2 separate regions of the Homo sapiens genome follow, and region 1 is linked to region 2. The links come from fine-mapping of genetic effects on plasma protein levels. Region 2 holds a variant in brackets. A gene starts in the other region. All regions are shown on their reverse strands. Region 1 holds the start of VAT1 (vesicle amine transport 1). Region 2 overlaps TP53BP1 (tumor protein p53 binding protein 1).

What was found. A credible set is the group of variants that fine-mapping cannot tell apart. PIP is the posterior inclusion probability: the model's chance that the variant is causal. Protein levels are from antibody-based Olink assays in UK Biobank. Linkage for the fine-mapping came from a reference panel and not from the study's own genotypes, which makes the PIPs less certain.
Region 1: it holds the start of VAT1, and the variant in region 2 is the best candidate, but not a certain one, in a credible set for the plasma level of the VAT1 protein (UK Biobank, PIP 0.65).

The regions. Positions count from the first base shown.
Region 1 is chr17:43,020,986-43,023,906 of GRCh38, reverse strand. It overlaps VAT1 (vesicle amine transport 1), which reads left to right and starts at 1,522. Exons shown (of 6, transcript NM_006373.4): 1 at 1,522-1,971. The coding sequence starts at 1,585.
Region 2 is chr15:43,463,684-43,466,183 of GRCh38, reverse strand. All of the region lies in intron 11 of TP53BP1 (tumor protein p53 binding protein 1), which reads left to right. Among named protein-coding and RNA genes, the nearest start is that of TP53BP1, 28 kb to the left of the region's middle. The variant A/G (reference allele first, on the strand shown) is at 1,198.

The DNA.
Region 1 (2,921 bases), not on the chromosome of region 2:
GTCCCAGCTATTCAGGAGGCTGAGGTGGGAGGATTGCTTGAAGCCGGGAGTTTGAGGCTGTAGGGAGCTGTGATCGCCCCACCTCGCTCAGCCTGGGTGACAGAGTGAGACCCTGTATCAAAAAAATAAAAATATAAATATAACTAGAGCACGCAGCATCATCACTATGTTACAGAAGGGAAAATGAGGAACAGAACGTTAACACCAAAGTCAGAAAGTTTTAAAGGCTTGGTCTCCATGCTTCTACTTTGCCACTGCAAGACCACAGTGAATTAAGTCTCATCCCTGCCTGGGTTAGATGTCAGAGCCTGAGACACAATGTAGTTGGACTCCAGTCCACAGGTGGCTGACTCCAAATCTGATATGAGTTAACTCCAAATCTGATGTAAGTTCAAGTTTTGGGACTGTTCCTTAACTTTTTTTTTTTTTTTTTGAGACGGAGTCTCGCTCTGTAGCCCAGGCTGGAGTGCAGTGGCGCGATCTCGACTCACTGCAAGCTCTGCCTCCTGGGTTCATGCCATTCTCCTGCCTCAGCCTCCCAGGTAGCTGGGACTACAGGCGCCTGCCACCACGCCTGGCTAATTTTTTGTATTTTTTAGTAGAGACGGGGTTTCACCGTGTTAGCCAGGTGAATCTCCTGACCTCGTAATCTGCCCGCCTCGGCCTCCCAAAGTGCTGGGATTACAGGCGTGAGACACCGCGCCCGGCCTTTTTTTTTTTCGAGATGGAGTCTCCCTCTGTAGCCCAGGCTGGAGTGCAGCGGCATGATCTTGGCTAACTGCAACCTCCGCCTCCTGGGTTCAAGCAATTCTCCAGCCTCCGCCTCCCTAGTAGCTGGGACTATAGGCACCTGCCACCATGCCTGGCTAATTTTTGTAGTTTTAGTAGAGCTGGGGTTTCACCATACTGGTCAGGCTGGTCTCGAATTCCTGACCTCAGGTGATCCACCCACCCGCCTCGGCCTCCCAAAGTGTTGGGATTACAGGCGTGAGCCACGCCGCCCGGCCCTTTTTTTTTTTTTTTTTAACAGGGTCTCACTCTGTTGCCCAGACTGGAGTGTAGTGGCGCGATCTCGGCTCACCTCCGCCTCCCAGGCTCAAGCGATTCCTCTGCCTCAGCCTCCCAAGTAGCTGAGATTACAGGCGCGCGCCACTACCGCCCGGCTAACTTTTTTATTTTTAGTAAAGACGGGGGTTTCACCATGTTGGCCAGGCTGGTCTTGAACTCCTGACCTCAAATGATCCACCAGCCTCGGCCTCCCAAAGTGCTGGGATTACAGGCGTGAGCCACCGCGCCAGGCCTATCCCTTAAAATAGTTTTTAATTTGAATAAGGTTTACTATGAATAAATAAATCACAGTCGGCTTGATCCCAAGAGCACAGACGTTCCTGGTGCCCCTTTTCGTGCTCTCCCAGCTTGCGCCACTATGGCCCTGGCCCTTTAAGGCTGAGCGCGAGGCCCCGCCTCGCCCGGCGCCCCGCCCCTCCCGCTGGATCCCGCAGCCGCGGCTCTTCCCGACGCGTTCCGCCTTCCCCAGCTGTGCACTCTCCATCCAGCTGTGCGCTCTCGTCGGGAGTCCCAGCCATGTCCGACGAGAGAGAGGTAGCCGAGGCAGCGACCGGGGAAGACGCCTCTTCGCCGCCTCCGAAAACCGAGGCAGCGAGCGACCCCCAGCATCCCGCGGCCTCCGAAGGGGCCGCCGCCGCCGCCGCCTCGCCGCCACTGCTGCGCTGCCTAGTGCTCACCGGCTTTGGAGGCTACGACAAGGTGAAGCTGCAGAGCCGGCCGGCAGCGCCCCCGGCCCCTGGGCCCGGCCAGCTGACGCTGCGTCTGCGGGCCTGCGGGCTCAACTTCGCAGACCTCATGGCTAGGCAGGGGCTGTACGACCGTCTCCCGCCTCTGCCTGTCACTCCGGGCATGGAGGGCGCGGGTGTTGTGATCGCAGTGGGCGAGGGAGTCAGCGACCGCAAGGTGAGCGGGTTGCGTAGGGCAGGGCAGGGCTGCGCAGGCCACTGGGCAGTGGGGCACGAGTGGGCGAGCGCCGGGGGTGTGGCAGGGCGGGAGAAACTGGCGCGGACCTGGGTGCACGAGCGTGGAAAGCGTAGCCAAGGAACTTGTGTTTGGGGGCTCCTGGAGAGCGGCATTTATGTGGGGAGGGGAGACGAAATTATCGCCCCTTCCCCAACCATTTTTAGTTGTGGCCGCCGCCCAGAAGCTGTGCTGGTGGGGGGGAAAACAATAAGGTGCCCATGCGCATGCGCACAACCACACTACCGTCCCCACCCCCCCCCCCCCCCCCCATTAAAACCACACCTGTACCCCTACCCACCAAACACTCTCTGGGTAATTGTGGTCTGTGACTATGAGTGACGGTTAGTGCCCCCTTTCCCCGAGGGAGCTTGAGGGGCTATGTCGTCGGGGTTGGGCGGGGGCACAGCGGCCGTGCCAGAGTCCTGGTCACATGCAGCCCCGTGGTCTGTGGGGGTGTGAGGCGGCCCCTCCCAAAGCAAGGCCAAAGAGACGAGACACGCCCATCACGGAGGAGAGAGAGCCTTTGCTACCCCACCGCCACCAGCCTTACACCGCCGATCTGATTTTGGGGTGGGGGAGGCGGGATTGGGTCATCCGATCTTTGTCTTGGGCTCTGTGTCTCCCGTGACTGCAGTATCTCCTCCTCCTGTGACTCAGCCCTCAGCCTTCGGGCCACGACCCGGGGCTGCCCTTGGGAATGCCTGGGGCGGGGAGTGGAAGGGGGGACCCACCTCTGCCTTCCTCCTGCAGAGGACCCCCACTTCAGAAACCCCAGTGCCAGGGGTTTGGACTGGAACGGAGAGGTGCGGCGCCTTGAACTGGTTGGCCAAGTCTGCAGGCCTGTTTCTCCTTCTCATTTATCATTAATCTTGGCCACAACCCTGGACACC
Region 2 (2,500 bases):
CCTTACCTGTCTGTGTTGGATACCTCTTGGGTTTCATATCTTCTTGCTTGGTTTACTCCCTCATTTTGGTGGGGGACATTGTTTAGTAGCCTTTATTCTGCTATCACACTTGATTTGTAGTTTGCAGGAGTATAGAATTCTAGATTGGAAATAATTTTCCTTTAAAGATTTTGAAGGCATTGCTCTTTTGTCTTCCAACTTCCAGTGCTGCTGTTAAGTGTGAGGGTCAGGTCAGCCATGGTGGCTCATGCCTGTAATCTTAGCACTTTGGGAGGCTAAGGTGGGAGGATCACTTGAAGCCAGGAGTTTGAGACCAGCCTGGGCAACATGGCCAGACCCTGTCTGTACCAAAACAAAACAAAACAACAACAACAACAACAACAAAAAACAAAACAGTGTGAAGGCAGTCTGATCTTGACTTTTAATAGGTGATCTGGTTTTTCTTTACTGGAATCCTGTAGGATTTTCTCTTCGTTCCCAGTGTTCTGAAATTTCCAGACCTTTGGGATACGTCTATTTTCATTCATTGTATTGGGTACTTGGCAGGCCCTCTCAATTTAGAAACTCAGGTCCTTCAGTTCAAAGAAATTTATTTCTTTAATTTCTTCCCCTTTGTTTTCTCTGTTCTTCTTCTTTTTTTAATGGACTATCTGTTGTTTGGATGTTGAAACTCCTAGAATAGTCTTCTAATTTTATTTTGCCTCCTACTTTTGATCATCTCTGTCTCTTTTAGTTCAACTTGCTGGGTGATTTCTTCAATCATTAAAAAAACAGTGGCTATATTGAGATGTAATTCACATACCATTCAGTTTACCCATTTAAAGTGCACAATCCAGTGGTTTTTAGTATATTCATAGAGTTGTGCAACCATCACCATGATCTAATTTCAGAATAGTTTCATCACCTCCTCAAAACCCATGCCCTTTAGCACTCACTCAACATTTCTTCTACCCTCGGCCCTTCGAGGGTAGTCTACTTTCTGTCTCTATAGATTTGTAGACACCAGTCTACAAATGGAAAGTAGACACCAGTCTACTTTCTGTCTCTATAGATTTGCCTATTCTGGACATTTCATATAAATGGAATTATAAAATATATAGCCTTTGTGAATGGCTTCTTTCATTTAGCATAATGTTTTCAGGATTCACCTGTGTTGTAGCATGTATCAGATTTTCATTCCTTTTTTTGTATTGATCT[A/G]TCCTTGTCTATAAAAAATATAAAGGAAAAAAGAATTTCATTCCTTTTTTATTTATTTATTTATTTATTTTTCTTTTTGAGATGGAGTTTCGTACTTGTTGCCCATGCTGGAGTGCAATGGCATGATCTTGGCTCACTGCAACCTTCGCCTCCCAGGTTCAAGCGATTCTCCTGCCTTAGCCTCCTGAGTAGCTGGGATTACAGGCATGCACCACCATGCCTGGCAAATTTTGTATTTTTTTTTTAGTAGAGACGGGGTTTCTCCATGTTGGTCAGGCTGGTCTTGAACTCCCGACCTCAGGTGATCCGCCTGTCTCGGCCTCCCAAAGTGCTGGGATTACAGGCATGAGCCACCACGCCTGGCCTTCATTCCTTTTTATTGCTGAATAATACAATTGTGTGGATATACCACAGTTACTCATGGATTCGTCAGTTGATGGACGTTTGGGTTGTTTCCCCTTTTGGCTATTGTGAATAATGCTGCTATGTACATTTATGGACAAGTTTGTGTGTGAACATGGTTTTATTTCTCTTATGTATACCTACAGGTGCCATTGCCCAGTTCAACCATCTTTTAATTCTTCTCTTAGTTATTAATTTCTACTCTTGGGTTTTTAATTTCTAAATTCTTTTTTCAGAATATATTTTTAAATACCATTTCTCTTGTTTTATTGATATACTATCTTATCTCTGTAACAGTATTAATAACAGTTTTCTTCTGTCTGGAATAGTCCTATTTCTTCCAGGTGGACTTTAGTTTTGTTTGTTTTGATCTCTTTCAAATTAGAGGCTTTCCTCAGATGTCTGGTAATCTTTGATTATTTGCTGATGTTCAAGAGTGAAATATCAGACAGATGATTAGTAGTTCTGAGTGGGTGGTTGGGTCTTATTGTTTTTGGGATTTGCTGTAATGTGATCCGCTGAGACATTTTATTGGGAGTCCCATAATGTCAGTATCTTGATTCATCTTGGCCTGGTCAGATCCCTTAGGAAAATGTCTGATCTCCTATTTGCAGGGTATTGGCCTGGCTGTACTAGAGGTCTATTAATGGAAGCGGGCTTTGGGTGGGAAGGGGGGTTGGGAGGCAGGTGCAGGTTTCATTCAATATGTAGATTTTCATTTAATCTCCGTATTTTCAGTATTGTACTTCCTGATAACTGTGCCTCTTGTCTGCCAGTCCTGGGACACTCTGTTTTACTCTCTCCAGGGCAGAGGAGGGGCAGGGTGAGATTATGGGTGTTGGAACTGTGGTGTAACTCTGGTGGTTTGTTGGCTTTCTCCACTGCTGGCTTAGGAATTCAG